5 separate regions of the Homo sapiens genome follow, and regions 2, 3, 4 and 5 are each linked to region 1. Evidence: fine-mapped expression QTL. A gene starts in region 1. Each other region holds a variant in brackets. All regions are shown on one strand. Distances are from middle to middle. Region 1 holds the start of PPFIBP2 (PPFIB scaffold protein 2). Region 2 overlaps PPFIBP2 (PPFIB scaffold protein 2). Region 3 holds the start of LOC105376535 (a long non-coding RNA gene). Region 4 overlaps PPFIBP2 (PPFIB scaffold protein 2). Region 5 has its middle 16 kb from the start of CYB5R2.

What was found.
Region 2: its variant is fine-mapped to the expression of PPFIBP2 in blood mononuclear cells (TOPMed, PIP 0.97).
Region 3: its variant is fine-mapped to the expression of PPFIBP2 in lung (TOPMed, PIP above 0.99).
Region 4: its variant is fine-mapped to the expression of PPFIBP2 in tibial artery (GTEx, PIP above 0.99).
Region 5: its variant is fine-mapped to the expression of PPFIBP2 in whole blood (INTERVAL, PIP above 0.99).

Annotation. Positions count from the first base shown.
Region 1 is chr11:7,511,192-7,517,777 of GRCh38, forward strand. It overlaps PPFIBP2 (PPFIB scaffold protein 2), which reads left to right and starts at 2,808. Exons shown (of 24, transcript NM_003621.5): 1 at 2,808-2,930. It overlaps LOC124902806 (leucine-rich repeat extensin-like protein 5), which reads right to left. Exons shown (of 4, transcript XM_047428005.1): 2 at 2,927-3,414; 3 at 932-2,849. The coding sequence ends at 2,019. OLFML1 (olfactomedin like 1) reads left to right here. Exons shown (of 3, transcript NM_198474.4): 3 at 1-186. RefSeq lists enhancers at 1,584-1,703, 5,389-5,438 and a silencer at 2,374-2,903.
Region 2 is chr11:7,588,732-7,594,168 of GRCh38, forward strand. PPFIBP2 (PPFIB scaffold protein 2) reads left to right here. Exons shown (of 24, transcript NM_003621.5): 4 at 4,401-4,493. It overlaps LOC105376535 (a long non-coding RNA gene), which reads right to left. Exons shown (of 4, transcript XR_007062579.1): 2 at 1,375-1,663. Among named protein-coding and RNA genes, the nearest start is that of PPFIBP2, 77 kb to the left of the region's middle. The variant G/A (reference allele first, on the strand shown) is at 3,499.
Region 3 is chr11:7,594,755-7,601,340 of GRCh38, forward strand. It overlaps PPFIBP2 (PPFIB scaffold protein 2), which reads left to right. Exons shown (of 24, transcript NM_003621.5): 5 at 2,806-2,919. It overlaps LOC105376535 (a long non-coding RNA gene), which reads right to left and starts at 2,426. Exons shown (of 4, transcript XR_007062579.1): 1 at 2,344-2,426. The variant G/T (reference allele first, on the strand shown) is at 1,914.
Region 4 is chr11:7,581,394-7,587,979 of GRCh38, forward strand. The region is part of intron 3 of PPFIBP2 (PPFIB scaffold protein 2); the gene reads left to right. LOC105376535 (a long non-coding RNA gene) reads right to left here. Exons shown (of 4, transcript XR_007062579.1): 3 at 1-16. Among named protein-coding and RNA genes, the nearest start is that of PPFIBP2, 71 kb to the left of the region's middle. The variant C/G (reference allele first, on the strand shown) is at 3,626.
Region 5 is chr11:7,653,987-7,660,572 of GRCh38, forward strand. It overlaps a transcript of PPFIBP2 not described here. Among named protein-coding and RNA genes, the nearest start is that of CYB5R2, 16 kb to the right of the region's middle. The variant A/T (reference allele first, on the strand shown) is at 3,368.

The sequences.
Region 1 (6,586 bases):
ACCTTTCAATAGGCCTTTCAAATGATAATTCCTCCAGAAAACCAGTCTAAGGGTGAGGACCCCAACTCTAGCCTCCTCTTGTCTTGCTGTCCTCTGTTTCTCTCTTTCTGCTTTAAATTCAATAAAAGTGACACTGAGCAAATAACCTCATCAGGTTATATTTGCCCACATACCCTAAGCACAAAAGCTTTCTGGGAGTGCTGCTTGTGTTAGGTTTACTGTGAATGATTCCCAACACACTGAGGCCCTGGTAAATATTCTGGAATCTGGACAGAAGCCATACAGCAGGCAAGCGACTCTGCCACAGCAGGCATGCCCTGTGGCACCGAGGGCAGCATGCCTCTTGACAGGGGCTTCCTCAGTGTTTCCCACGTGTTTGTCCAATTCAGCTAAGTTCGAGTCACAAGTGCAGGCTGTGGTGCCAGTCTGTGTCACGTGCTGAAGCCTCTGTCTTTCCAGGTTGGTCACATGAGAAGGTTTGCTTTGTGTGCTTGCAGCTGTTTTCCTGTCTTTGCCAAGCCCAGGCTGGGACCATAGGCAGTGAAGAGAAAATGTTTTTTTCCATAGCATTTGAGTAGATATTTGGCAGAAGGGAATTACTCAACCCATGGATACAGTGTAATTACCCACAGTTCTAACAGAATGGTACAGAGAGGCCAAATCCTTTGTGGAATGAGACAGGTATGAATAAATAAATGTGATATTACCTGCCCTATTACCTACCTATTTCACAGATAGAAGGAATGTGGGCTGCCTCACAGAGGATAGTGGGGTAGATTTATCAATAGGAGTGAGTCCTGCAACCATAGTTCCTTTGGAGGCACAGAGGGGAGGTTGCCTGAAATGTGCTGTCTAGATTCCACCTGGGATATGATTTGATTGACAGCTCTGCAGGGCACATCTGCCCCAAACAACTCACCTTGGTACCTACCTTAAATCCCTGCAGCTCGAATCACTCTTTTAGGTCAAGACATTTTCTCCAGGAAGCCCCTGTTAAGGGACCACTTTGCTTCTTGTGAGCCAGCGCAGGTCAGTATGCAGGCCTGGGAATGGGGTTTCTTTCAGGTGAACGTTTTAGCTCTGGGGTCTTGTTGGATTTAAGTGAAGACTGACATCGACATGGCCTACATCAGTGGTTCTTAAACTTTGTTGCACATAAGAATCACCTGCGGAGTTTTAACAGTCCTCATGCCGTGGCCATATCCCCAAGACCATTAAATCAGAACCTCTGGGGATGGATCGAGATATCAGTATTTTTAAAGTTCCTTCCCGCAAGTTGGTTCCAAAGTGCAAAGAAGCTCCAGAGCCGGTGACTTAGAACATTTAAAAAGGTAACTGTATCAATTTAAGAACAGGCTAGCAGTTTCTGGGGGCGGAGGTAAGGGGAGTGGCTCCGCTAGGGCAATAAAGGGTGGGATTCGGAAACAGCCATGACCTTGTGTGAACTGTGGCAGCCTGCGTCTACAAAAGTCGCTCTGCTGCTATTTTAAGGAAGTGAAAGAGAACTGAAGGGTGTCCTGTTGTAACACAACTCTTGCGGGCCCCAGCCTTCCCCTGCTGGCTGTGCTTTGGTCTGCTGCTGGCCAGGTTCCCGCAGTGACCACACGTCTCATATTTGCCAGGGTGGGTTAGGTTCTGTTCACATGTAAAATTCTCCTGGGCCTACTGGTCATTTCAGACCGCGAGGGTAAATTTGGTTTGAAAAAGTTGTGTCCTGTGGAGTTTGTCGACACTCCAGCCTGTAGAGAACTAAAGGCTAGGGCTGTGGTGACTCCTGCCAGAGCTGGGGACTATGCCGAGTCCCTGGTGTCGCTGCCATCTGAGGCCTACAGGGATTTTAAACAGCTTAACAGCAGCCAGTCCTTGGAGGCCTGGGCAGGGCCACAACATAGCAGTACAACCAAAACGGGTTCAGGCCACACGCTGGAGGTAGGGGCTGGACCAGATCTCCAGCTTCAGTCCTCCCCAGTTCGAGAACCCATTCCTGTGGTCAGACATTGCCAACGCTTTTCTTGGACCTAAGGTCCCAGACCTTGGCGCTGGGCACAGGGAAATGCTTCCTGACCTCGGCTCTTCATAAGACAGAACTTTTGTTTGGTGCCAACCACTAGAGGGACCTCCACCCCAGGTTGCGAGTGCAGCGCGGCGGGACCTGGGATGATTCGGGGGCTTTCCGACCTGCTTAGGGAGGGCGGCTCAGAGACAACCTCAATTTTGCCTGGATTGCACGCGGGCCGAGGAAGTCGGGATGCTCCGAAGGGTTTCTGCTCTGGGAGTGCCTCTAATGTGGGTTTTCTATGCTTTCTCTCTTCGCAATTCTCGACACCGTTTCCTTCTTCCTCGCTTTCATTCCCTGTGACCGGAGAACGGCGCTGAAGGACTGGAGAAGCCCAGGAGACTGGGAGCCGGAGCGCCGGGTACCCACCCGGGCCTCCCCGCAACCGGAGCTGTGCGGAGGAGGAGGCGCGGCGAACGGGGCGGGGCTCCCGGAAGGGGGCGCGGTCCGCCGAGAGAGGCGGGGCTGGGGCCCGGACGCGCGGCCCAGGGGGTGGGGACGAGGCAGGTTCGAAGGGGCGGGGCTGACCAGGCCGGTCCCCCGGGAACAGGAACCCTGGTGGACGGGTCCCAGCAGGCTTCTTCGGTGCCCGAGAGGGAGCGGGTGCCCAAGGGGGTGGTCCCTGTGGCAGGTCCCGGGGTGGGGGCGCGGCGCTCCGGGAAGAGCCTTCCGCAGGTCCCCGCCCCGTCACGTGGGCGCCGGCCCCGGCCGCTGCGGTCGGTCCGCTGGTTGGTCGGGCGCTTGGTCCGGCAGTTGGTCGGTGGGCCAGTGGCCCGTCGCTCGCTTCTGGGCTCTCATGTTTGAAGGTGGGAGGGACACGGGAGCGGCCCGCACACCTGAGCCGCCCGGAGAGGAGCCTCGGCCCCGTACCCAGGTCAGTGGGCTCTCCCCACACCCCGGGCTTGCCGCGCGGTCGGGGTTGGGATCCCCGTCGGGAGCATTACCTAGGGAGTGGAGCGCCCCCAGAGCTACGAACCACGGGGACGTGTGGGTCAGTGTCTCTGTGAGCCCCGGAGCGTGTCCCAGGCTCGAGGACGGGGACCCTTCTCCAACTCCACTGGCCAGAAGCCTGGGAGGAGGGCAGAACTCCTGTGGGTTGGCTGCGAATCTCCACCCAACCCTGCCTGGGATCCGCGGACAGTCCGCACTCCTGCAGGTGCCAGCGTGGCCCTGGAGATGCGCAGGGAGGTGGGGTCCCTGAGTTCTGTGCGGCGCGTCCCAGCCCTGCTCAGCCCGGGGAGCAGCGGCGTGGACTAGGGAGCCTAAGGAGGTTGCGGAAGCTTTAGGTCTGTCAGCCCAGGCAATTCTCTGGTGGACACAGCGTGTGTCTAGATGCAGGGCCTCGGCTAAAGCCAGTTCTGTAGTGTAAGTGCAAAAATACAGCACACTTTTTAAAATCTAAAGCCGCCGCGTCCCAGTAGACTGCAGGATGGGGACGGTCCTATTTAAAAGTGGGCTCCCTCCTCACCTCATCACATCAGATTCCAGACCCGCAGTTTTTCCTCGGATGAAAATAAGATTATGTAACAAGAGAACAGAACTTCCAGCGTTTGGATAGGATTAAGACAGGCATTCTTGCCAGTGTTTAATCTTCTTAAAAAACGAATCTAATTATATTTTTACTTTTAGAGCAGCCAGATATTTGGTATAGATCCGTGTCCCTTTTCTATATTTTGGTCTACTTCCTGTCTTTCTCTTCGTCTCTCTCCTTTCTCAACCCCTCCTTAATTGATTGTAATACAAATCTGAAGTGTTTTCAAATTTGTAGTGTATTATGTGAAGTTAAATGGTCAACTACAGAAAAGTAGTTGGTTTTCGACATAATTCATCTTCAGCATATTCAGTCTTTCATTATTATAGGTGTATGGAAAGCTGTAAGTGTTATCTAATTTAGAAATTATTTCTCTTTGGCTTAAGAGAGGCAACCCATTTGTACTTTGCTTAAATTCATAGCTAAATAAATTTGAAGTGGGAGATGGGGATGATTGATGAGGTTTTCACTGATTGCATTTATCCATGTTTTATTTAACATATTTCAATTATTAGTAATACTATTTTAAGATTTGGTGATGTGACAGTTGTTAGCTTATTGCTACTGGAGAGATAAGCTGCTTACCATGATGCCTTCTTTACTGGGTAGCTAAGGGAGATGCGCTTTGACTTTAAAAGAGTAAGTGGAATGAGATCAATGACATGAAGGCGGTAGGAACAAAGTTATGGGAATTCCTGTCTTTCATCTGAGCAGGGAAATCTGGGATAATTTTAAGAAAGGGTGATGTGATGGACCTCAAAGGATCCCTCCTGGGGTTTTTGAGGCAGAGAAGGGTAGAGTGTGGCCTGGGCTGTGACAACTGTGTGGGCAGGCAGGCATGGACTCACCATGAGAAGTGGCCAGTGGTCCAGCTTGGCTCTTATGTCAAGTGCTAGTCAGGAAAGCTGGTGACAAGGCTGGAAAATAGTCCCAGCTGTCCAGTACAGAAGTCTGGACTTGGTCTGAAGGCACAGCAGGGGACTGACTGATGGTTCTGTGAACTTCTCAAAGTCAAAGACCTTGGTCCTTGACCCTCCCAATTCCTAGCCTGATACAGAGAAAATCCAGTAAATATTTGTGGAGTGCATGGTCTGACAACACTGTAGAGCAGAGCTTCTCAAAGTTGAGAATCCTGTGGGGATCTTGTTCAAATGCAAATTATGATTCCATAGGTCAGGGGTGGGACTTGACATTCTGTGTTTCTAACAGATTCCCAGGAGCTTGCTGATCATTTCCCTATGTGTAGCAAGGATTTAGAGTAGCAGTTTGCAAACCTGGCTATGCCTCATAATCGCCTGGGGAGTTTTGTAAAACGTTCAGATTAAGTAGTCTGGGATGTTTTTACCAAGTTCCCCCAGGTGATTCTGTTGACAAACCCGAAGGCAACTGCTGCAATGGCAAAGTTCTGGGAGTGTGGTGGGAAGCAAACTCCAAGGGAAAAAGACAGTGGGGGCGGCGAGGCCGGATAGGAAACCGGGAGGCTGATCCAGGGTCAAAGGGATGAGGCCTTATTTTGGGCCTGAGAGAGTGATGAGGTGGGGACAGGTAGGGAGACTTCGGAGAGATAGAATCTGTAGGACAGAGGACTAGGGAATGGGACAGTCTCTAGACTGATTAGATGCAATGAGAAGTGAGGAGGGAGAAACAATGCTGGGAAGATTCAGCTTTGGGCCTGAGGAATGGTATGGCCTTTAGACTGTAATGTTTAAGGTAAAGTTTATGAAAGGTTCTTGTATTGGTTCGAACCCCGAGAGCCTGCCAACAGACAACATGAGGCGGTGTGGGGCAACGTGCTGTTTTAACGAGCGCCTGGGTGCAGGTGGGCTGAGGCCTAAAATGGCGTCAGCACCAAGTGAGGACGAGGCAGGGGTTTTATAGTTTCCTGTAAACAAGAAGTGTCTCAGTCTGATGTAACTTCTGCACAGTACCCAGACGGCCCCTCTCTCTGTCTTCAAGGGGTACGTGTCTTCCAGCCAGGGTAGGTGTCTTCTGGCCGGCTGTCTTCCTGCTTCTGCTGTCTTGCTGATGCACACTGCTGGCGCAACTGGCCTTGCACCTTGGGACTGGGCCTGAGAAGGGAGGAGTTACTCATCTCTTCAAGCTTTCAGACCCCGGGGAGAATCTTTCATTCCTGTCTATTTGGTTATAGTAAAAAGGGAAAAGGGGTGACTTTCTCAATAACTACTTCAGGCGTGACTTAGGGGTGGTGTGGGCTCCTTGGAAAAAGAAAAACTTAATTTTTAGGGTATTCTTGAGAGATGTGTTGGTATCCATCGTGTCGTTGTAGCAGGAGCATAGTCTGAATTGTCTGGTGGCTAACTGTAGTTTCAATAAGAGTTTTAGTGGCTTTTATTATTAGTGGGATAACACAGGGGAGAAAAAGTGATGAAGATTACTGTCCCTACCAGGGTTTTAAATCCTCCTAAATTAGAGAACTGTTGTCCGGCTGCTAGAGTGAGAGCTCGAGTGAGGGTGATGAGTTCAGCTTTTTGGGAGGTGGTGCCTGGGAGGAGCAGATTGGCTTCAATAGTGTGGGGTCTTTAAGGGTAATGTGGACAGGGGTGTGGTGTTTTGCAACTGAGGGTGTGGAAATATCCCTAACAGCGGGGTTAACTACAGATAGGGGTAAGGAAAGGTTGCATGTTTTAGGGTGGGAGGTTGGAGGAGCAGAAGAAAGCTAGAAGCCTCGGAGGGGTCTGGGTTGATGCGTTGGGTACTACGGGGAATGTGGAAGTGGAGAGTAGTGTGGAGTTTTGAAAGGATGTCCCTGCCTAGGAGCAGAGTTGGGAATGAGACCAGGTTTGGGGTGAAAAAGTGAGTGAAGGAAAAGGTGTGCAGGAAGCAGAAAAGTGGAGGGGTGGCTCGGGGTTAGGAGACTTGTCCATCAATTCCCACAACAGAGACTTAGGAGGACTGGGTGGGTCCTGAAAAATTAGGTAAAGCAGAGTAGGTCACCCATGTTGATTAAAACCATCAGGGTTACCCTTGGCTCGGATGAA
Region 2 (5,437 bases), 77 kb after region 1:
CAGCCTCTTGAGAGCAACACTTGATAGACACAAAGGTGGCTTGGCTTCAATGATCTTGACTAAGGGTGCTGAGTTCTTAAAAATATCCATTCGAGAAGCCCTTGTCTTGATTCAGTTCCGTGATATAGGAGAGGTAGTATGTTTCACTGTGGCATTCTTTAGTCAAAATTGAAGAGGATGTGGAAATGTCTGGAGTTAACAGTTCTCCACAGGGCACACAGATCACATGGTTCTCACTATATTTTTAGGTAACTAACCTGAATTACAGTATCAGAAATAGCTCTGACCATTTGAATGAATGGTCTGAAAATTTGAATGAGAAGATTGACTTTTCCCTGTCACATTTGTAGCAATAACCATCAGAACAGAGGGGGAGGAAGTTTGATCAAATATATGTAACACAGCTTACCATTGGCAGGTCTAGCCTAGTGGCTAATGTCATTGGTTGAGTAAAAATTAGCTCTTTCTTATATTCATCTGTGGATTGAGCATCCTTAACAAGTATAACGGGGGTGGATGATACTCTCCTTTATAGTCACTTGCCATCCCACAGTGGGGAACAATAGAAAATTAGCATGTAGGCCAGGCACGGTGGCTCATGCCTGTAATCTCAGCACTTTGGGAGGCCAAGGTGGGCAGATCACAAGGTCAAGAGATTGAGACTATCCTGGCCAACGTGGTGAAACCCCATCTCTACCAAAAATACAAAAAATTAGCTGGGCATGGTGGTGCATGCCTGTAGACCCAGCTACTCAAGAGGCTGAGGCAGGAGGATCGCTTGAACCCAGGAGGCAGAGGTTGCAGTGAGCCTAGATCGCACCACTGCACTCCAGCCTGGTGACAGAACAAGACTCTGTCTCAAAAAGAACAACCCCCTCCCAAAAAAAAAAAAACCTCAGAAAATTAGCACGTAGCATCCTTCAGAATTTGATTGGACTTTCTTCTCTGTGAAATGTGGGCATGGTTTTTGCAACCTGACTTCATGCGTGGAGAGCTGGGCAACTGCTCTATCGCTGACTTACCTAATCAGGAACATGGACAAGACTTTTCAGAGACACCTCAAACCTGGAATCATGCAGGGATCCACTATCCATCCAAGCCTTCTATTTGCAATTCCACTATTAAAGAAGCAGGTATACTTGTTGACCAAGCAAGCTGTCTTTAAAGTAGAGCAAAACAGAGATGTGTCCTAACTCAGTCTTTTAAAATATTTTTCTCAATAAATTGGAATCCCATTTTGATAACCACAAAGCTTATTATGCCTTGATGATGTAGTCATTTTATAATGCAAGAATGATACCAGAACGTGATTGAACCTGTTGCCAGGTTATAAGAATACAGAATATACAGATTCACCCAAAGGCAAATCCTTACCTTAGGCTGATGAGTATTAGCATTCAGCAAGACAATCCTCTTCTTGGCCCTGTTCTCAGATGCTTTCCAAGTTTTTCTCCAGGCAGAGGTGGCATTTGATCCTGGCCTATGCCCTTCTGAAGAACGCAGTTTTTTTTAACATCCTAGTCCTATATAGATCATGAAAACACATGGCTCTGACTTCATCAAAAGCAAAGGATAGTGATACTGTGGGTTTCCATCTGGAACATTATCTTTCACTGCTGTTTACCTTTAAAAAGCTTGCTGGAGAACGGTGATTTTGAAGGACCTGTAGAAGAGGAAGATGCACTGTTCCTCTAGAACAGTGATTGGGGTGGGGGAGGGACCTGTCTGCCATGCACACCACTGCTGTATGGACCAGTATGCCTGCTAGGAAAGGAGTTGGCTCCTCGAATCTGTTATAGGAGGGGCAAATATGAGGAACCACTGTTCTAGGTCCTCTAACAGTGCTTCTAGATTTTCAAATATATTTTAATTACTCAATAGAAACATTTTGTAAGAAACTCAAACATTATGTCAAAGTGCTCTGAACAGTGCCTGGCACATGTTGAGCACAAGGTGCTTGCTGTGTATTTACAGCACTGTGCCTGGACCATATTATATTAGTCTCCATGGAATTGCTTTCACCTTTGGCCCATATTGTCCACTAGCCTCTGAACTATTCTGAGAACATCACACAAAAGTAATGAGTTCTACTGGGCTCTGTTTACTATAAGGGTGTCATGGATATTGCTGATCCCATCACACAAAATCTGTCTATGAAAACGTGAAGTTTCTCCCTTGCTCCGGAATAATTATGCTTCTCCTAGGCAATTGATTTGATTTTACCATACTGATCTGCGGATCCTGTTAACTGATTGTGCCTCTCTTTTTTTACTGGCTGCTAGCGTGGATCTAGATTTTTGATCCCCCTTCTAGCATGTGCTATAGAATCTAGGTCATACATTTTATTAACTGAATTTATGATTTCAACTTTCTTACTCTTTTTTTTGTCAACTAGTAAAAATAGTTACCTCTCTGGGTGATTGTATGGGTAGACCTTTTATTATAATGAAGAATATACTGCACACCATTTGAATAAGGCATAGTTGGTACAGTGGCTTGCTGGAGTCTCTGGAAGAAGTCTTGCCTTTGGTCTTCTCTCCTTCATTTCCTGCCAGAGAATGGGCGGCTGCCAGTGCTAGGTGGCTCCGTGTCCATGTGGACTTCGGCACTGGGGTTCTACCTGCAGAGCTTCACTTGGACACCTGGGTCCTGTTTAATTCTCTGTCCACTGGAAATCACCATCATGTGAGTTCTTTGACAGAGAAGAAGTTGACCTGCTATTAAGAATTATTCTCCTACCTTTTCTTCTCTGGTTCTGAGAAAATATAGATTATAATATATTCTTGGATTCTAGTCAGAGAATTTGATCATGTGAGAACCGGAATATTAATTTAACAACAATAAACTGCCATTAACAAAGAAGTCAGTTGTGATTGTTAAGGTTCTTTGTCTGTGGCATGAAAGAGCTTCCATAACAATGAACAAGACATAGGCTCCAGAGGGGCTGGAGCAGAAGACAGTGGTGTGGCAGCAGGTGCTGCCTGGCACAGCTGGCCTGGGGAGTGGCCCCTGGGCCTGTCCTCTGGCTGCACCTTCAACAAACAATCAATGAATCTTTCACTAGTGCGCATCCAGGGTTTGAATGCGGTATGCTTGGTCCACATTTCTGTTCTAGGACTGGGCATGGCTCTGTTGCCTCCCTCACCTATGCAGTGCATTGGGAAGGGGTGGGATGAGGGGAGGAAGGAGGTGCCTTTTCTCATGGAGGGTGGTGGGAGAGCCCATGCTAAAAGTTGAAATGTGGGGAAATGGCCTAGGACAAGGTGGCCCAACTCTGGGTCTCTCACATCTGCCTCTTTGCACAATTAAGACTTTCCTCTAGGGTGGTAGACACCTCCCTCGTGAATATTGAAGTGCTGATTTCACTGGACCAGCTCAGATTGTATAATACTCAGTTCCACATTTAGCAATCAGATCTACTTTTTCAAACTGCCAAGCCTCTGGGTGGCCTATTGCAGACCAGTCTGATTTCAGTCTTCCATTTGCATGGAGGAAGGA[G/A]GTGTTGGGGCCAGCTTGGTGACATTAGCTCCTTCTCTCCTGTCTGCCCACAACCAGGTCAGACACACCCAAGAAAGTGACACCTCCTTTCTCTGCTTGGGACATTTGTAAGATTCTGCCTCTCCTCTGACATTTCACATCCTCTCCCTTTCCTCTCTTTTCTATAGTTTCTGGCTACCTGTAATTTCCTTAGCTTTTGCTCTGGCATCCCTCTGGCTATTATTTAAGTTCTTCTCAAGATGTTTTGTCTTAGCTTGCTTCTCTCAGCTCTAGCACTGGGGAAATGTGATCTGCCAGCCTGGCTACCAAAGCTCTTATTGGAGGGTGGGATTGGGGTGGGAAGGGACGTGTGAATGAAGGGCCTTGTAGTTGACATCCTCCATCCTTCATGCTCACTGTGATGTTCAGGATGGGCCTCCATGCAGCAAGGTGTGCCTTGGCTTCAGGGGACCCTGGCATGAGAATTAGGAGATACCAAGATCTGTGCAGAAGCTGTTCCCATGTAGTCCCTTGGAGAACGGTGCCAGCTCTCCAATCTCCTCAAAGAGCAGACCCTCATTGTCGCCATGCCTCTGGAGGCTGTGCCTCTGGCTAACCCAGACCCAGCATGTCAAGTCAAGCACTGCTGGGCCTAGAGTTTCACAGAGGCCCTCCTGGCCAGGAGTGAGGTCATCCAGGAGGTGGTTGTGCCAACTTCCAGGGCGCACTTTTCAGTGGCATGTGATCTGGTTCTCCTCATGGTAGTTTTGAAATCTTGTGGTTTCCTGTTTTGATGATTGGTTTTGTACATATAATCAGTGAAACTATCCTCACAAATTACATGCATCCCTTATTTCATTTAGAAGTTGGTAAGATGTTTTTCCAACCTTTTAAGTGTATTCTTTTTTTTCTGTCCTCTTTAGTCCCAGGTAAACCACCACAGTGCTGCTAGTAATGAAACCTACCAGGAACGCTTGGCACGTCTAGAAGGGGATAAGGAGTCCCTCATATTGCAGGTGGGTACTTTTTGGTGAGAATCGGCTTATCCTGTTACCTCCTACTATGTAGCTTCCCCTAAGTGGAAGGGAAGCCCAAGAGATTTTCTCTGTTGGAATTTTTCTCCTTCCAATGCCTATGTTTTTAGAAAAGACTTTTCCTGAAATAAAACATTAAGTAACTGAGGGGACAATTTAACTCTAGACTTGGCTTAGGGGGGCTGTGAATTCAGTCATTCATTTATCATGCACTCCCAAGCACCCGCTTCTATACACTGGCAGCCCCATGACCAGGCTGATTTCCAGGTGCTAAGAATGAACAAAATGGGCCCTGTCCCCCAGAAGCTCCTGAGTCTTGCGAGGGAGGGGAGATATATCCTCATGCCACTAATAAAACAGAGCTGTGGGTGATACAGGCCTAAGGGTGAATGCTAATGAATCAAGTCCAAATTGTCTGAAGCTGGATCTAGACTGATCCCTTTAATGCCAAATCCCCTGGAGCTGGTAACAGGGGCTAAGCCTTTGATAGCTGTCTTGCTTGAAAGAGAGGAGCTCCAAAACCTTTTACGGAGAAAGATCATCAAGGGAGCTTTTTCGCTGTTGAAAGTTTGTGTGCCTTGGTAGGACATAGAGTTAGGTATTCTCATAAGAAGGCTGTTGAAGAAGCAGGCCCAGCACTTTGCTGTGTTAGCTCTTGAAAATATAAATTGATTAAGCAAGCATTTACTCAAGGTCTGGTATGCATCAGATATTAATTAGTGATTTGGAAAATATAAAGGCTAGTATCCTAATCCCAGCTCCTTAAAAGCTTAAAGGGTGATGAGTTAGACTGGTGGTAGAATGAAGGGAGGGGTTGAGCGGGGCCTGGAACCCACCCCAGGCTATGGGCTTTAGCTTGGAGCACTAAGGTTATGAGGTGGCAGTGTGTTTGTTTTTTCTCTTTTTACCTTACTTATTTTACTCTT
Region 3 (6,586 bases), 84 kb after region 1:
GAAAATACAAAAATAAGCCAGGCATGGTGATGGGTGCCTGTAATCCCAGCTACTCGGAAGGCTGACGTAGGAGAATTGATTGAACCCAGGAGGTGGAGGTTGCAGTGAGCCAACATCGCATCACTGTGCTCCAGCCTGGGCAACAGAGCGAGACTCCATCTCAAAAAAAAAAAAAAAAAAAAAGAAAAAGGAGAGTGTGAATTGACAATAAGCCAATACATTAACTATTTCAGGTGCTGGTAAGAACGCTGGAAAAAAGTAAAGCAGGATGAGGATTGTGTAGTAAAAGGAAGATCTCCTTTACAGGAGGAAGCCAAGGAGGGAGCCATGCAGATACCTGGAGAAGTGCATTCCAGGCAGAGCAGGCAGTCAGTCCAGCCCACACACTGAGGCAAGAGTGTGCTTGGGGTGTGGGAAGAACAGCAAGTGGCCATTGTGCCTGCAGTCTGTGCTCAAAAGGGTGGTGCGAGCTGCCTTTAGAAAGGTAGCAAGGGCCAGATTGAATAGCACATTGTAGCACAGATGTTTGAGGGATGTGTAATTTGAAACTCTTATCCCAATGACATGATTAATGAAAGAGTATCCAATGTAAGATTTTGCAGCAAACAGTATGAAATTGCAAACTTTTGAACCAGGACCCTTCATGATTGAAATAGCACATTCCTATTTACAGAGGATTACAATTTAATTTTTCAAAGTCCTGTGTAATAATGCTCCCTTTCACATTCATAGTTTTCTAAAATTCCAAATTCTTGAATAATCCCCATTTAAATAATCCTAACACAATTGGGAAGCTGCTTGCCAGTAAAGTCAGAAGTTGACCCTAGTAGTTTCTACTCTACTGGGAGCTTATGGGCAGACTCCAGGAGTGTCTGTTAAGTGATCACTGCTGTTCTGCAGTGGAGCTGGTTAGGCAGATTCTCAGCAGGGTAGAGCCTCTTGCTTAATGCACACAGCAGCTTAGCCAGACTGAATTAATTTAGAGTCCTTGGCCCAGAAAGTTTTCCTGGTTCTACTCATAGAACAAGGCAAATCACACATAACAAAATACTTTGTTTCTAGGATTAGTTAAAAACAAAACCAGAATCTCTTGTATCTTCATTATAATGTAACTCCTTAGGAAAAGGATTTTTATCCTTTTTTTTTTTTTTTAACTTCTGTATCCTCCAGTACCTAAAATTATGCCTAGCATCTATTAGGGTCTCAAAAATAGTTGTTTTTAGTGAACAAAGGTCACATTTTATGACCTTTATGTATTTTGTCTGGATTTCCTACATCCCTTCATTTGTAATACTTAGAATCAGCGTTGAGGTTCAGAAAGCCCCTGGAGCTGAACAATTAGCTATAGAATGCTAGAGATCCTATGATTCCTTGAGTATCACCAACACATGGCCTCAAGGCATGGTATAGACCATAGAAATGTTTAACCCTCATAATAAGATTAACCAGAAAACATCCTTCACAAACAGAAACTCTGGATTCCAGTGAGCAAAGCCCACCCCCAGAGTCCTGCCCTTTTGAAAGTAGAGTTAGTTCAGGATGGCTGAGAGTGTTGGGCCACAGGGATTAATAAACACCCACCCACAAAGGTTTGCGTGTAAGGTGGACCAAGTTGATAGAAAGAGCCCGTTCTTGTTTTTTTTTTTTTTTTTAACATTTTTTTTGGTTAAAAGTGGAATGTTAACCATGTGTCAACTCCAGGAATATGTTTCAATAATTCATTAATCATTTGGGAAAATAAAAATGGAGATCTTAAAGTAGGCATATTAATTTAGATTAGTTCCTTTTTAAACAGGCGCTTTATAATTCAGAAAGTTTATCTAAACACTCATAAATGAATTCACATCAACTCATGCACCATCTATTATTCCATTTCAGACTGAGAAATAATTCTGGATAATCTATATGTAAAT[G/T]GCAACAACTCTAACCAAAAAGGTCTAAAGGATCTCAGTTTATCAACTGCTAATTTCTTCACTTTGGGGAGGACACTCATTCTCTCTCTTCTTGCTTTGAACCATCTCTTAATAAAGAAAAAGGATCCTGGGGCCGTTTGCTAATAGAGAAGGCTATGAAAACCATTGTTAATATATAGTTAGTGCATAATTTGAATGACTTCCTGTAAATGAGTTTTTACTAATTAATATTTTTAATAGGGATTCTCAGCGTTCTTCAGAAAGATGACTTTTTTTCTGCCACCGTATGTGTAATGTGGCTTCTCTATATTTATGACTTAGAGTCATGTTTTGGCCTGTGAAGCACAATAACCTTTCTGGAGCCAAGTTTTGTCAGTGCTAATACATGCCCTTTACAGCCCACATTCCTTAATTGCATCAAAACACTCACCTGATAGGTGAGCAGTCCTCACACCCTTATGAGAGAGGTAAGGTCATTGGTTAGTTTCCATGAAGTTTGGACCGCTCTTCCACACGAGGTTGCAGAAGTGCTGGCAAGCCAGCTGAGATGTGCCTTGAGGTCGGGGCTGTTCTGGAAGAGGAATAAGGAGCAGGAGTCCAGCCCAGAGGCAGCTCCTGTGGCTGTTGGGTGTTTTACTCTTGAGTCTATCAAGAGCAGTAAACGTGACCCATGTCATCAGAGCAGTGGCCGAGACTCCCTGGTAAGGTAAGAATCTAACTGCAGCTGCCTTCGTTCAGGACACTTCCTCCACCTGCCACTCAGCAAAAATCAAAATCGTTCACTGTGTGTAAGAGTCAGTGGTGAGATTTAACGGCTCCCCTGAGGTGGGGAGGCTTTCCTGCACCATGTCAAATCCCTGGTCCTCCACCATTGCTTTATTTCCTGGAACAGGTGAGTGTCCTCACAGACCAAGTAGAAGCCCAGGGAGAAAAGATTCGAGACCTGGAAGTGTGTCTGGAAGGACACCAGGTGAAACTCAATGCTGCTGAAGAGATGCTTCAACAGGTAAGGGCGGGTGCACTGAAGGCCCTTGGGTGCCGAAGCAGCTCATGTGCTGAAGCCCCTTTGTGTGCCCAGGCTACAGCCCTCGCTGTCTGCTTTCCCATCCTGCCTGGGGGCGGGATTGGCTGCTCAGTTGTACGGTGTTTATACAGCAGGTGAAACCAACCTGAACGTTGAGAGTGGCAGAGGGGGTAGGGAAGGGAAGGGCTGCCCTGAGATGAATAACCTGCTGAGCTGGTTAGACAGATTCCCAGACAGCACTTTCTCCAGACCTGGTGCAGTGAGGGAGCGCTCGGCTGGGGGCCTCACCCTCATCCTGTGGGTGCCATCTGGAGTTTTAGAAAGTCAATTCTCAGCTGATTCTATGCCCCTTTCCCATCTCGCTCTGCCTCTTCCTACTGTATATAGTTTTTAAAATAAAAATATTATATAAATAACCTTTTAGTATAATTTAATAGATATCAAAATGGAAAAAGATATTTAACTGTTCCCTACCATTCAAATAATGTCTTCTCCTTGTTTTCTTTTTGTCCTTGTTATGTGTACATGTACTTTCCAAATCTGTAATCACAAGAGATATGCAATTTAGTCCTCAGATTTTGTATGCTTAATATTATATTTTTCCCATTTAAAATTTTTGCTGTATTGTCATCTTTACTATCACCTATAATAGATTTTCTTAGTAAAAGTATCAGAATTGACTTAACTTTTTTTCAATTCCTAAATATTTTTACTGTATTATAAATAATGAGCTACAATTTTTTAGGAAGGGGTGTTGAATTTTTATTGTATCAAAACTTCAGAATTTGTTGAGAAGCGAATTAGGTTTTTAAATGAAATGTATTAATATATCTAATCTTAAATTTTCCTTAAGTCATTCTTACATTTTAAGTTATCTTGAAAATTAAACAATGACTGAAGTTTATGTGTGTATGCCTTATAACTCCTGGCATAGTACTTGGCACATAAAAGGTACTCACAATTACTTAAAGAACAAAAGTTTGTTCCTTAAAATGAGTGGATTCAATTAGAGGACTACTTATAATCTTTCCTCCAAAAGCGCTAGCATTTTTTTTTTAATTGTCATGATCAGCATAAGACTCAGATTGTTTCTTGACAGCATACTGGTGAACACAGGCTTTGCATTTTACCTTTGGTCTCATGACAAATGTCATGAGAATTAATCTGGTGTTTGTTAGTTTTGTTTGAGTGCCTTTGAAGAACTTTATACAAATGTAAGTCAGTGTTTTTATATATATGTCTTCATAAAAACCCGTTTCAATGATTCAGGAACTTTTGTTTGTTATCTTTTCATTGCTGATTAATAAATTACCACATTCTTGGCGCCATTTGATTTTCTACTTAGGTTGTGTGCCATTTCTCTTGTTCATAATATTTCCTAAAAATCTGACTAGCAAAAGGAATTGAGGCTTTTTTTTTTTAATTGAATCTTTCTTTTGAAGACCCAGGAAAGAAAATAGCCTGATGGAAAAAAATCTCAAATGATGAAAGTATTTTCACAAAGAGTGCAGAAAACAACCTACTAGATTGTGTTTTCAAGTCTGCACAAGGTGTGTTTTTGAGGTGAGAAGGATAAGGGAAGAAGATGATGGAATGGTGTAAACAATCCAGAAAGAGAGCAAGAACATTTGAATACGGAAGGGAACGTGTCAGAAGGTTGATGTTTCAGGAAGGCTATGCTGGGAGAGTAACCACATAATCAGAGGTCAACAGAATGCTGCATTGTAGTGCCTGAGTTATCTGACTGCCTGTGCTGGCTTCTCTGAGCCTTCTCTACATAGCTCTCTATGACAGTGTTTCTGCTCCATTGTCAAAGTCTCTGTGTCAAGGAGTCTGATTGTGATGCCCAGCACCACCTGGGGAGAGGCTGTCTAGTTCCTCTAAACATCATCCCATGGATGGCATTTTAGACTTTTTTAAAGTCATAAACTCAATTACTTTTTTTTTTTTTTTTTTTGAGACGGAGTCTTTCTCAGTTGCCCAGGCTGGAGTGCGGTGGCGCGATCTCGGCTCACTGCAACCTCCGCCTCCTGGGTTCACGCCATTCTCCTGCCTTAGCCTCCCAAGTAGCTGGGACTACAGGTGCCTGCCACCACGCCCGGCTAATTTTTTTTTTTTTTTTTTTTGTAGTTTTAGTAGAGACGGGGTTTCACCATGTTAGCCAGGATGGTCTCAATCTCCTGACCTCATGATCCACCCGCCTTGGCCTCCCAAAGTGCTGGGATTACAGGTGTGAGCCACTGCGCCCGGCCTCAATTACCTTTTTTAGCCCGTTTATTCTAAACCCTCTTTCCTGTGTGCTGTGGGTTTGGTATTGGGCGTGTGGTACCATGTGCCATAGAGGGTAGATGTCTTAACCTGGCATATTTTGGAGTATGGTAGCCACTTCTGAGTTTCAAAGATTCCTGAACTTGACCAAGTTATTTTTCTGCCCATAAGCTTTCATTGTATTCTCTCAAACTGTCAAGGGTCAAATGATAGCAGTGTGCAGTGCTCCTTTCTTAACAAATTGAGTTCAAGCCATAGGACACATCTGAGCCTCATCTTCCACTCATGTGTTCGCTGGGCTGGGTGGCACCAGAGCTTGAGATCTTTTGAGTTCCCAGATCTAAATCCAAAGTTGAATGTTCGGCCGCACATGCTATTGCTTTCCTGAAGTCTGTTTGATGCTGTTTGTGAAGACACTTGATTCTTGCACCACAGTGCTGATGCAATATCTCTGGCTTGGAGTATGTGTGTATTCTCTGAGCTAGGGACAGGCAAACACTTGCCTGATTTGACTGAGATATCCTGGGCTGCAGGGCCCTTGGCTTCTGGTGGTAGGAGCAAGAATGACTCATGGCCTAGAGGCAGAGAATGGAGGCAAACAATTGCCTCTTTCTGCCAGCCTCAGAAACCATTCCTGCCTGGAGCCAAGGCGAGCCTGCTGCTCAAAGCCTCTGAAGGAAATCCTTTCACTGTCTCAGTGTGCGCCCTTCTAACTGCCTGTAGATAAGGTGCTTCCTCGGGGTTTGCTGCTCCTGATAACCCTGCATGCTGGAGACATCCTGTCTGAAGGCAGCAGCTGCTGTTCTACTCCAGTTGACTGCCCATGTAGGCCTGGTAATGCTAGATATTCTCATTTTTCACAAGAGACTCAAAATCCAGATCTAAAGAGTTAAGGATCTCTGCTTTTAAAATATTAGCAGCTAATTTAAGTTTTTTAAAATGCTGTGTGAATCATACAGTACATACCTATAGGTCAAGCCTGGCCTGCAGGCCTCCAATCTGCAACCTCTGCTCTAGACTTGGCCCCTTCTACAGGCTGGAATAACTCCAGGGGGACTTGGGGAAAGCCAAATCAATGAGGATAGCCCAAACCTTGTGCTTAAAGGGGCTCCAAGAACCCCATTGAGCTGTCTCTCTCCATGCTGCTCTCCTGACCAATGTCAACCTTCCTCCAGGAGCACAAGAGGTGAGGAGTTAGTTCCTTACCTAGTTCATGAACAATATACTCACTGTATCCCCAACCACAACATCCTCAGTCTGTCGCTGCTCAGGGCTGACCTCCCAACTCCCATCTGTTTTTGTCTACACATGAACTCATCCAGCCTCCAGAAAGAGCAAGAAGACCTCTCTTGGGGTTAGACAGGCAAATCAGAACCAACCA
Region 4 (6,586 bases), 70 kb after region 1:
CTTAAGCAAATTCCAACTGTAGGTCACAAAGAAAATGGAATCACTACAGGTCCCCCATGCAGTTGGCTCAGGTTCTGCAGTAAAAAGTGGAATTAACTCAAGCTGCTAATGTGAGACTTTATTCTGTGTCATCTGGTGCTCAAATGGTTGATCTAGTAGCCTGGCCACTTGGGCCAGAAGAGCTGCAAAGGCAGACACGGAGGTCTCCTCACTCCAGACACTGACTTGCCTTGCATTCATGTTGGACTGCAGTGAAAGTTACAGAAATAGGCAGCAGCTTCTGTGAAGGCTGTTCCTACTAGTTAAGAGCATGGATCCTGGATCTAGATTCCTTGGGCTCATATCTCACCTCTGTGTAGACTTGGGCAATTTATTTAACCTTCCTAGAATTCAATTTCCTTGATTATATATATGGATAAACAATTCTATAGATAGATAGATAGATAGATTTTTTTTTTTTTGAGACAGAGTCTAGGTCTGTCACCCAGGCTGGAGTGCAGTGGCACAATCTTGGCTCACTTCAACCTCCTTCTCCTAGCTTCAAGCGATTCTCCTGCCTCAGCCTCCCGAGTAGCTGGGATTACAGGCATACACCGCCATGCCCAGCTAATTTTTTGTATTTTTAGTAGAGATGGGGTTTTGCCATGTTAGCCAGTCTGGTCTCGAACTCCTGATCTCAGATGATGCGCCCGCCTCAGCCTCCCAAAGTGCTGGGATTACAGGCGTGAGCCACCGTGCCCAGCCAATTCAATGTATGTTAAGTGCTTAGGAAGCACTTTATAAGTGTTAGAGTTATGGGGAGGATGACATCGATCAGAACTGACAACCTCTGGTTACTCGGGAGCCAGGTACCCAACCTTGATTCTGAAAAGAGAGGTTTTTCAATCCTATGGGAAAGGCAACAGTGGATATGGTCACCCAAGGGCACTAGCTTCCTCAATTTCCTATGATACCTCCTATTTCTGGCCAACACACCCGAGATGCCTGTACATTATGTTTCCTGGTATAATTTAGAAGCTAGAATTCTGCCATCTCTGACATCCAGCACCTGTAACTCCTGCCAGCTCCTTGAAGAGAGGCCTCTTTTACCCAGTGGGATTTAACAAACTGGCATCACACCAGGGTCATTTGCTGAACAACTTGTGGGCACTACAGAGCAGCACAGCCATTGTTGGTTTTGTGGACTGGCAGCAGCACTTAGGGATCCTTTGACTCATCCCTGCTTTTCTCTGTCCCTTCCTCCATAGCAGCTCTTTCACACTTTTCCATTAGTCTTCAACCTTATACTCCCCTTTCAACTGATGTCACTACCAATGTCATAGGAAAAAAAAAAAAAAACCAGCCAAACTGAGATGAGTCTCTTCACCCTCCCTCCCTTTCACCGCAAAATGTAACTGTATTTCAGCATCCTGTTTCATGGGCCAGGAGTCCCTTCTCTCAGCCAAGGCTATCCCAGTATCCTGTCCTTGACCCAATCCTGTTCCAGCTCCTCTTGTTGCTCTGATTGTTTCTTCTCTCAGCTCCTCCCTGCCTATCTGTCCCTTGCCCTTGGTGGAAAATGCTTCTCCTCAATTCTCAGGGAAAAAACAAATCAAAACTATCTTTGACCCTGTGCTTGTCTCTTCATGCTGCCTTATAACTTACCTTCCTTTCACTGTTAAGATTCTTGGTGAGTTGTTAGCCTGCTCGTTCATCTCTACTCCCTCCTGGTCACTCCTGAAGCCAGTGAGCACTAACTTTGTTCCTATAGTCATCTTTTAAATTCCTTCTGTAATGTTATTTTTGCTGCCTCTAGTTCCCAGGCAATCTTCCCCATACATTTTCCTTTGTATTCATTTCCATTTGGAAATCTTGTAGGATTAATGGCATTCTTGTGACCCGAGGAGCAGCTCCTTACTTTGGCTCTTGCCTAATTCTGTGTTCTCAAACTTTGGATCTTTCATGCCGAAGAGACACCAGGCTCTAAAGCCTCCAGGGGAGCTAAGACAGTCACAGCGCCCACTCCACCCTAACTGTAGCACCCAGTCCTGCTGCACTGTCTCTGAAGGTGTTTTCAGTAATAATGACTCAGTGCATCTATTGGAGTTGGCAAGGTGAGGACAGTCTTCAAAGAGTCTTCTCTTTTTACTCTCCTCCTGGCTTTCACATCCTCTCATTACAGGATACCAGCACACATACAAATGCTATTTCTGCAGCCCAGTGCTGTAAGCTTTTTATGTGTCCAGCTACCAGATAAAGAGAATTTAGCAGTGACCAAGCTCAGCCAAGGTTATAATTTTGGGGAAAAAAAAAATCTTGGTAAATGTGTTTCTCTACAAATCTAGCTCCCCAGGAAGATCAGTTAGGAGCTTCATCCCAGCCCCTTGGTTGGAGAGCTGATGGCCAGTTTATCTTCAGGGTGTCCTGTGTTTGCTATGTTAGTTCTGGAAGACCAGAATATCTGAAGGGTAGTGATTGTCATAGCTTCATGGGTAGCATGTCTGTATTGGGAAGGCTATTTCCAAAGCTGCTGTTCTCACATTCTCCTAGGGGTATTCCTTTAAAGCCTTCAGACTCAATCATTCAAATGGTGCCTCCACTGTAAAGCCTCTTCTCTCTTTTGAAGGTGAAATGTTTTTGTCTCTCCTCTATGCCCCTGCCATTCATGTGCATACAACTCTTTATGATAGTACTTATTACATCCTGCTGCAAAGGTTGATTTCTTTTTTCCTTCTGTCCTTATTCCCTGTAATACTACAGAGCTTTTTAAGGGCAGGGACTAAATCATTGTTTAGCACAGAAAGTGGCACCTAGTGGGTGCTCAGGATTATTCAAGTCATTTCATAAATACATTCATGACGTGTGATGATGTGAACATTGGTCAACCAAGAAGCTATTTATTTGCTGTTTATGAACTCTGCTTTGTTCTTCCTTAAAAGAGGACATTTAGATCATTGGATGATAGCCTCATCAGCAATACTTAACCTCCCCTTATATATAATTGAGGGGAGGAGGGAATAAGGGTCAAGGTCAGGATAGGCTTTCTCTTGTTGGACTCCTGGTAGCCGAGGATCTGACTGCACTCTATTCACATTGCATTTGGAAGAAATTTCTTTAACACTGTGACAAAGATGGTAGATTGGCTTGACCGTTCTTCACCTAGAAAAAGCAGAACTGGTCCTGGGAATACTCAGGTTTATAATAAATGCCAGAAAGCCCTAAAACTCCTTAATAAAAAAATCTAGGGGAAGTTTTCTTTTTTATAAGAACCTGCCTACACTCATACTACTGGGTTCCCTTGGTGTTGGGTAACCAGAGTCCTGTAACAGGAATTGACTGTAGCTTTTGTGATCCAATCATTTTTGTTTATTTATTTATTTTGGTCCCCTTACTTTTAAGGTTTATGTCTTCTAAGTTTCTAAAAGGGGTTGCATGTGAGTGGTGCTTCTGAGCTTAAGATATAGCCTTAGTAACTTTGATATCTCCCCTGATGCCCTGTGCCTGGCAGCTATGGTTCACTTGTAACTAGTTTTCTGGATTTTGATAAGATCCTCTTGACTAGGCAGCCTGGAAACACTACACATTTTCTTTTGTTTTCTTATTCAGCTAAAAATACATGTCATCTAAATGGCTAAATAAGGAAGAA[C/G]CATTTTAAGGCTTATCCAGGACAAGGCTTACCCAACGTGCTGTGTTCAAAATCTCAGCGTATTTACAGGCAAAGAGCCATCATATAATTTAACATGCTCTGACCAGTTGGGACAGTGTATGTACTGTGGCCAAGATCCTGAAGGCACTGGAATTTATAGCTTATTAGAAGCACTGAAGGAAATGTAACTCTTTACCTGGCCAAGATGACAACTATTGATATCAAAAAAAGGAAGGCAGATGCATTTTGAGGATCCCAAGGCAAGAGCTCTGAGAAGCAACTGTTGGCTTCAAAAACCAACATGATGCTAGAGCTGTCACACTGGGGAGCCGACTGTTTTAGGTTTTCCCACACTCCTTACTTGTATACCAATGACACCCCTGTTGTGATCTAGCCCTTGCCCCATTTGACTACTCTGGAACCAACTCCTTCCCCTAGTTCAATGAAGTACAGTGCCAGCAGGAAGTCTCCTGGGTCATGCCAGTTGGGGAGTGCTACAGAACTGCCCTCATCCAGCATCCCTGAGGTGTACCAGAGCACATGTGAAGAGTGTGTTCTCCTTGCAAATGGCCAGCCAGGCCATAAAGCAGTCATGCTGCCCACCACAAATCTGCAGGACCCCAGCCATGGCATCAAGCACTCACCCTGTCTAGAGCTCCAAGGAGAGACTAACATGGCTATCCCTTGGCCAAGCTACAGTGGAAGGGCTAGGCCAGGAGAGAGCATTGTCATAGATCTGAACAGCCACTGCAGTCAGAGGGTGATGTCTTTGAGGAGGCCGCTGGGGGTTAACTTGGCTGAAAAGTTCATGTTTAACCCAAATTTGAACTAACCTCTAGATTGGAACAGAAATAAAAACCCAAGTGTTTATGATTGGTTATTACTAGCTATAAAAATTCCCAGTGTACTCATTATAAACATGTATGTAGCACATAATACTTAGAGTACACAATAAAACACTTGTACGAAAGAAAAATATGTGGCCATGAATGTATGACTCAAAAATGTGAGCACTTGTTCAGGGATAGTGGAGAAGTGAACTCATCTTTGGCAATGTGGCCCAAAGACATGATCCCAGGGCTATTAGCTAATGGTGGGTTCTGCGTTGTCACTGTCACAGAGGCTTTCTTTTTGTTTTGTTTTTTCATTTCAAGCCTGAAAGTATTTTGGTTATTGTTCCCTTGGGTTGTTTGTACAGATCTTCATAGATATTTCTTAGGCATCCTGATCAGAAATATTGCCCCTGTTGTTCTCTTACACAAAAAGAGTGAATTAATTAAAACTTTTTGTAGAAGGCATTAAATGATGCCTTCTAACTCATGCTTCTAACTGAATGTTGGTCTTTTAGATTAAACAAAGCTAAATCATTTATAAGTTAGCTAAATTCATTTGTTAAATTATAATTTAAAAATCATTTCCATATTCCTATGATTATTCAAAAACTGTTTATATCACACAGGAATTTTTAGAGCACCCTACTATAAAGAGCACTCTGTAGTTTTAGTGCCACACGTTTTCAGGTATGCTGACCTAACTTGACCCTTTCTGTTGCTCCGTGAAGCATGATTTTTTCTATTGAAAGGATGGAAAGCCTGAGATGAGGTAACCTACTTGAGATTACACATGGTTAGGTGCAGCCCCAGCCTCCTAATTATTCTTGGTTTGTCCTCTTTCTGCAGAGAAGGTGGTCCCTTGGGGAGGAGGATGCAATAGGAATTCTGTAAATGAATATGGAAGCACCACAAGAAAGTCCCCAGGGATCCCCTGACTTGAAGTTCAGCTGGGCCAAATGAGGGGAACAGGGAACCCAGAGCTCTCAGCCTCCCAGCGCCCAGACCTGGCATTTGTACAGCTGTGTCTGACATGTAATTCTTTCGACATAACTTCTTAAACAGTTGTTAGATCTATTTCTGTTATTTACCCTTCATTTATTCATTTTCTGATTCATTTTCTGATAATATCTTTTAGACTTTAGCTCCTGTTTATTTCTTGTTTTGTTTGAACTTACTTTTTCATATCACACATCCTGCTCCCCACCTCCACCAACCCCGGTTGATGCCCATGGGCCTGTTGCATCTTGTATTCATTCCCTGTCTTAACCTTTTTGCTCTACATGGGAAATAAGAATGGAAGCAAACAGGTGGTGGATAGAAAGCCATCTATTCCACACACAAAGGACACTGAGTGCCCTTTTTATCCTAGTACATCCCACACAGACACTCCCTGTGCCACAAAGTAGATCTCAATTAGCCCCTGATGATAATCCTGGTTTGAACTATAGTTGGCTTAGGACTGACAGCCCTGTCTTAAAAATTGCCACTTTAAGCAAATCAAGCAATAGTGGCAGAATTCCTTTGCAATTCAGAACTATATCCAAATAGCAGGAATTCTTTCCTACAAGTCTGTTTCCAAAGGAGTAAATTTTAGTCAGTTGATCACCTTTTGAGACAAATGTATTAACCAGAACTTTTGGTTGCAAATAACAGAAACTCAGTTTGAACTAGGCCAAGAGGGAACCAACAGGAAGGGCTGGAATATATCTCTGCCTTTAGGCAGCGTGCACCGGGGATGAGAATGCCTCCAGTCTTTTTCTTGGCTTTTGTTTGCTTTTCTGTGCACACTGGGTTCATAGCTGTCTCTTGCTGCAAACCAGCTTTTTCCACGTGGAGCAGGACATGGCCACTGACAACCTCAGAACTGTGGCACCACCACTACCATGCTCTGTTCCCAAGTTTAAAAATTCAGAGGAAGGATTTCAACAAGTCAAGCCTGGATCAAGTGGCAGGGAGATGAGGATCTTTCTAAGAAGATGGCAGCCCTCATTTATACCACATAATTACAGTAAAGGCGATGATCTCAGCCTAGTCTACACAAACAATAGATTCCATTAAAGCAGGGTGCTGATTCTCTGCCAAGACTGATACAAGTCTTCTCTGTTTCTTTTCCTTAGCAAGAAAACAA
Region 5 (6,586 bases), 140 kb after region 1:
CCGAGGGGGCTTCAAGTCTCATGCACATCCTGACCATAGGGTCCATCTGTCGTGCAGACCTCAAAGCTGAGTGCTTTCAGTGGCATGAGCCCCCCCAGTGAAGGGGATGGTGGGGAGACAAGAAGGCACCTTGCTGGAAAGACTCTCTTTCATGTGTTTTGCTGGCTTCTCTATTACTGACTTAGCTAGGCTCATAACCATGGTGGGGGCTGGTCTGTCTGCTGGCAGAACTGAAAGAGATCTGTCCCCTTGATTTAGAGGCTGACTGACTGATAATGACTGATAATGGCTCCTCCAGATGGGCCTTGTCTGGCTGGGACTGAGGTAGAGATGTGCCTTGCCAGTCTGGACTCCTGGTCAGAAGACTCTAGTTTGCCCCCAGGCAGTGCTTGGCTCCCCTCAATCCCCTGGGCCTCATCGCAGAAGAGTAACACCACGTCACCGCTGTCTGATGGCCTGGGCACGGCCTGATGACTCCATTCCATTGTAGCACTCTGATTCTGTACCAGATGGAGGCTATGCTAAGATTTGCTTCTTAAACTACCAGCAGCCTCAGGCATGGTCTGTTGCCACAGGCCACTGCCTCCTGGGAGGTGAGAGATGTGGGGACAAGCTTGCCAGCTGGCAATGCTGCTGATAGATCCTGGTACCCAGGTCCACTGGATGACAAGTGCTCATTCAGGCTGATGCCTGGCCACTGGAGTTGTAGAGCCAGTCAGGGCAGGCTTTGTCCCTTGTTTCTTATGTTGCGGTACAGGGATCTCTGCATGTGCCTGTTTTCAAAACCTGCATGGAACTGTTGTGCCACTGATTCTCTGCACCCTCAAGTAAGTCCTGTTCCCTTTGTGGGCTTGTTTTCCTACCTATAAAACAAGGGAGGGGTTACACTTGGTGCCCTCCAAATTTACAGAGGATGTTTCCAAATCTACAGTGTCTAAGTAGGTTTAGGGAAGGAGGAAGAGACCAGCATTACCTGAGAAGGAGGGGCAGGAGGGAGGCTCTTGAGTAGTGAGGAAGGATGCCCACCTATGTCAGGGCATTGGTGTCTGAGCTCCTGTTGCCTGGTAGCAGGAGTCTAGCATCCTGAAGGCCTTCATTCCTACTGCTCTCTGCTCCTGGAAATAGCTGGAACATTGAACACGTGCAGAAGGGCTGCTTCTGACAAGCTTGTGTCTTGCCTCTGTGTACCCTGAATGCCAGTTCCCAGTGGGGCCCCAGGAGAGGTATGCATGCAGTGTGGGACATTGATGCCTTTCCCCAGGAAACAGGAGCAGCATGTGCTCCACCCACCTGTCACTCCTCAGGGCCTGGCCCACTCCTTGCCTGTCCCTCCAGAGAAGCATGCCCTGGAGAAGCCAGGCTTGAGCACGACAGGACTTGCATGCCATCTCTCTGAATCACAAGCTGCATCCATGTGTGCTGACCAGGCTGCTGCCCATTTTACAGATGGCACCTTCGGAAGGTACCGTGACGCAGATAGGGCTCCTCTCCCAAGACATTCACCGCCTTACGGTAGGACTCTGACCCTCTCCCCACAGTCAGACTGGTGCCAGGGAGGCCCAGTGAGTTTGGTGTGGTGTGGTGTGGTATGCACAAGGCCTGGGGGACGGCGAAGAATGGTGCTTAGTGCTGGGGTCACAGCCTGAGCCTGAGCCAGCCACGAGGCAGAAAGCAGCCCAGGGGCCTTCTCTGTTGGCCTGTTACTGGACCTTGAGCCCCTAAGGGCAGTGGGGAGGCTCATCGGCTGTTAGCCAAAGCCAGCTAAAGCACACTAGATCTCAGGTCCTCTTCCCAGGCTTAGAGATGAGGAAACCAAGATGCTCAGCAACTCTAGATCACCTGTCTCATCAGCCTAGAGCCCAGGCTGCATCCTGTCCTAGTGGACACTTCCACCCTCTGCCCAGAGACATATGCATTTCCTATCGTGCCTCTGACTTTGTGGGTATCACAGAGTGTTGACAGGCTTGTGAGCACATCCTGGCACGCCCGAAAGGACAAACCATATCATGGGGAAGCAGTTTGGCCTCGAAAAGCAGCTTTGGAGTGAGGCTGAAGTCCCTGCTCTGACTTCACTAGCTCTGTGACCTTGGATGTCATTCTCTCCTGAGCTTTGGCTTAGTTATCTGTAAAGCAGGGCTAATGACATCCTCCTTGCCAGGCTTATAGGCAGACTAGAGCTGGCAGGAAAAGGCCAGCCACAGAGCACAGGATTTGTTTTTGAGGATCCATCACTCCCAAGGCCTTTTAGTTCTTGGACATTCCATCACTGAGCCTATTGGCTATAGTGTCTGTCCCCATCGAGGCCCCTGTCCCTGTACTTTGCTTGCTTGTCTAGCAAGGCCCATTGGGATGACAGGACAAGGACAGGGACACACGACTCTCCTTGTTTTCAAGGACAAAACAGGAAAGTCTCCCTGACTCCAAACAGGATCAGTTTTACTCAACGTTTTTATTTATTGGCCCACCCATGAAAGGAATCTGCCCACACTTGCCCTTATGATCTAGGCCTTTGGTGGCCTGAAAATAGAAAATTTATTTCTAAGATGAACAATTTATTTTTATCTTAATAGTGTTGTTTATTCTGACCCAATACTCAGGGTTTCTTGGGACACTATAAACTTATAGTGCACCTGTGTCAGATGCAGCCCTCACCCAGTGCCCTCTAGTTCCGGTGCAGCTGCCGCAGGGCAGCCTGGACCAAAACTCTATTAAACTGACCCTTCGGCTGTGTCCTTTTCAGACAATGCTGAGCCAGGACCAGCTGCTGAATGACTCTCGCCTGCCTGCCCCCAACTCTGATGACTGGAGATGACTTTCTTCGTGGCTGAGAGCGTAGGGAGGCATGTGTGGGGGCCCCGGAGCCTTTGCTTCTGTGGGGAGCGGGCACACAGCCCCCTCTGCAAGCCCAGTCCGGGCTGGCAGGGTGTCTCAGACAGGCTGCTGACAGGCATGAAGCAGAGCTGTGGGACAGGTGTCCAGGGGTGGCCCCAGGGTCCATGTGTGTCTTCAACCATGCTGCGCTCTTCACCGCAGGCTTCATACCTTTTGTACTTTTATACGTGGACTGCAGACCACTTTGTGGGAGGGCAGTGACATATCAGCACACAGACTCGATGGCTCGTGATATTCCTGGTGACAGCCTGGAGGCTCTCACACTCGAGGGGAAGAGCTGTTAGTTCATAAAACCTGCTGGAAAAAAAGTTCCGAAAAACTGTTTTGAATGTTCTGTAGAGACTGTGTTTTGTGAAATGGTCACCAGGAGGTCCCTCCGGGGCTGCTTCACAGAACGTGCTTTTTCCATTCTTGGGACTGTGGCTGGGCAAGGCAGGTGTTTAGGGTATGAGCGGGTAAAGCAACGAGGCTCCTT[A/T]CCCACAGCACTGCCTGACTCTATCTCCCGTCATCTGCAAGGGGTATCTGTGCGACTCCCAGCTTGGAGCAGAGGCGTCCCCAACACGTGCACACCCTGCCTTCTGCCTCCACCCAAGCTGACACACAGCCTCCTCCCAGGCCTTGCCCTTGGAGCAGCTCAGGCGTAATGTCTGATTAAATAGCTCCCCCAAGTGGAAGGCCCTTGAGCACCTCAAGCTCCGTGTTTCCACCCCAACTCACCAACTTCCCAAACATGTCTGTTTCCTCTCCACTCTTTAGTCCTTCCTCCCTCCAGGCGTCTGCTCAGGCCCTTCCCTCACTAGGGAATGCATTTTTCTCCTAGTCCCCTTCATGAGGGAAAATCCTGTCTCTCAAGGCACGGCAAAGAGACCATCTCTCAGGAAGCCTTCCCGCATGATCCAGTTACAGGTAGCTCTCCCACAGTGCCGTGTCTGCCCTTGAGCCAGAGCACAGCTCACCTTGAAGTTTCTTGTCGTCTTACCATACCCGTCCTCACCACAAACTTGGAGCACCTGCTCTGCACTGGCTCCTGTAGACAGTCCTCCAGTTGCCAAGGAGATCTGTGCTCCTAAGTTCCTCATCCACCCACTCCTTCGCATGTGTGTGTTAAGAACCTTCCATGCCAGGGCTAGAGATACAGGCATGAATGCCAAGGTCCCTGCCTAAAGGTGCTTACAGTGTAGTGGAGTACAGACCAGTTTCAAACAAGACTCTGCCAAAGGTTACAGATGCTCCAATATTAGTTTCTGCAGCCTAAAAGAGCATGTTGTCATTTTTTTTTTATTATACTTTAAGTTTTAGGGTACATGTGCACATTGTGCAGGTTAGTTACATATGTATACATGTGCCATGCTGGTGCACTGCACCCACTAACTCGTCATCTAGCATTAGGTATATCTCCAGGTGCTATCCCTCCCCCCTCCCCCCACCCCACAACAGTCCCCAGAGTGTGATATTCCCCTTCCTGTGTCCATGTGATCTCATTGTTCAATTCCCACCTATGAGTGAGAATATGCGGTGTTTGGTTTTTTGTTCTTGCGATAGTTTACTGAGAATGATGATTTCCAATTTCATCCATGTCCCTACAAAGGACATGAACTCATCATTTTTTATGGCTGCATAGTATTCCATGGTGTATATGTGCCACATTTTCTTAATCCAGTCTATCATTGATGGACATTTGGGTTGGTTCCAAGTCTTTGCTATTGTGAATAATGCTGCAATAAACATACGTGTGCATGTGTCTTTATAGCAGCATGATTTATAGTCCTTTGGGTATATACCCAGTAATGGGATGGCTGGGTCAAATGGTATTTCCAGTTCTAGATCCCTGAGGAATCGCCACACTGACTTCCACAATGGTTGAACTAGTTTACAGTCCCACCAACAGTGTAAAAGTGTTCCTATTTCTCCACATCCTCTCCAGCACCTGTTGTTTCCTGACTTTTTAATGATTGCCATTCTAACTGGTGTGAGATGGTATCTCATTGTGGTTTTGATTTGCATTTCTCTGATGGCCAGTGATGATGAGCATTTTTTCATGTGTTTTTTGGCTGCATAAATGTCTTCTTTTGAGAAGTGTCTGTTCATGTCCTTTGCCCACTTTTTGATGGGGTTGTTTTTTTCTTGTAAATTTGTTGGAGTTCATTGTAGATTCTGGATATTAGCCCTTTGTCAGATGAGTAGGTTGCGAAAATTTTCTCCCATTTTGTAGGTTGCCTGTTCACTCTGATGGTAGTTTCCTTTTGCTGTGCAGAAGCTCTTTAGTTTAATTAGATCCCATTTGTCAATTTTGTCTTTTGTTGCCATTGCTTTTGGTGTTTTAGACATGAAGTCCTTGCCCATGCCTATGTCCTGAATGGTAATGCCTAGGTTTTCTTCTAGGGTTTTTATGGTTTTAGGTCTAACCTTTAAGTCTTTAATCCATCTTGAATTGATTTTTGTATAAGGTGTAAGGAAGGGATCCAGTTTCAGCTTTCTACATATGGCTAGCCAGTTTTCCCAGCACCATTTATTAAATAGGGAATCCTTTCCCCATTGCTTGTTTTTCTCAGGTTTGTCAAAGATCAGATAGTTGTAGATATGTGGCGTTATTTCTGAGGGCTCTGTTGTTCTGTTCCATTGATCTATATCTCTGTTTTGGTACCAGTACCATGCTGTTTTGGTTACTGTAGCCTTGTAGTATAGTTTGAAGTCAGGTAGTGTGATGCCTCCAGCTTTGTTCTTTTGGCTTAGGATTGACTTGGCAATGTGGGCTCTTTTTTGGTTCCATATGAACTTTAAAGTAGTTTTTTCCAATTCTGTGAAGAAAGGCATTGGTAGCTTGATGGGGATGGCATTGAATCTGTAAATTACCTTGGGCAGTATGGCCATTTTGACGATATTGATTCTTCCTACCCATGAGCATGGAATGTTCTTCCATTTGTTTGTATCCTCTTTTATTTCCTTGAGCAGTGGTTTGTAGTTCTCCTTGAAGAGGTCCTTCACATCCCTTGTAAGTTGGATTCCTAGGTATTTTATTCTCTTTGAAGCAATTGTGAATGGGAATTCACTCATGATTTGGCTCTCTGTTTGTCTGTTGTTGGTATATAAGAATGCTTGTGATTTTTGTACATTGATTTTGTATCCTGAGACTTTGCTGAAGTTGCTTATCAGCTGAAGGAGATTTTGGGCTGAGACAATGGGGTTTTCTAGATATACAATCATGTCATCTGCAAACAGGGACAATTTGACTTCCTCTTTTCCTAATTGAATACCTTTTATTTCCTTCTCCTGCCTAATTGCCCTGGCCAGAACTTCCAACACTGTGTTGAATAGGAGTGGTGAGAGAGGGCATCCCTGTCTTGTGCCCGTTTTCAAAGGGAATGCTTCCAGTTTTTGCCCATTCAGTATGATATTGGCTGTGGGTTTGTCATAGATAGCTCTTATTATTTTGAAATACGTCCCATCAATACCTAATTTATTGAGAGTTTTTAGCATGAAGGGTTGTTGAATTTTGTCAAAGGCTTTTTCTGCATCTATTGAGATAATCGTGGTTTTTGTCCTTGGCTCTGTTTATATGCTGGATTACATTTATTGATTTGCGTCTATTAAACCAGCCTTGCATCCCAGGGATGAAGCCCACTTGATCATGGTGAATAAGCTTTTTGATGTGCTGCTGGATTCGTTTTGCCAGTATTTTATTGAGGATTTTTGC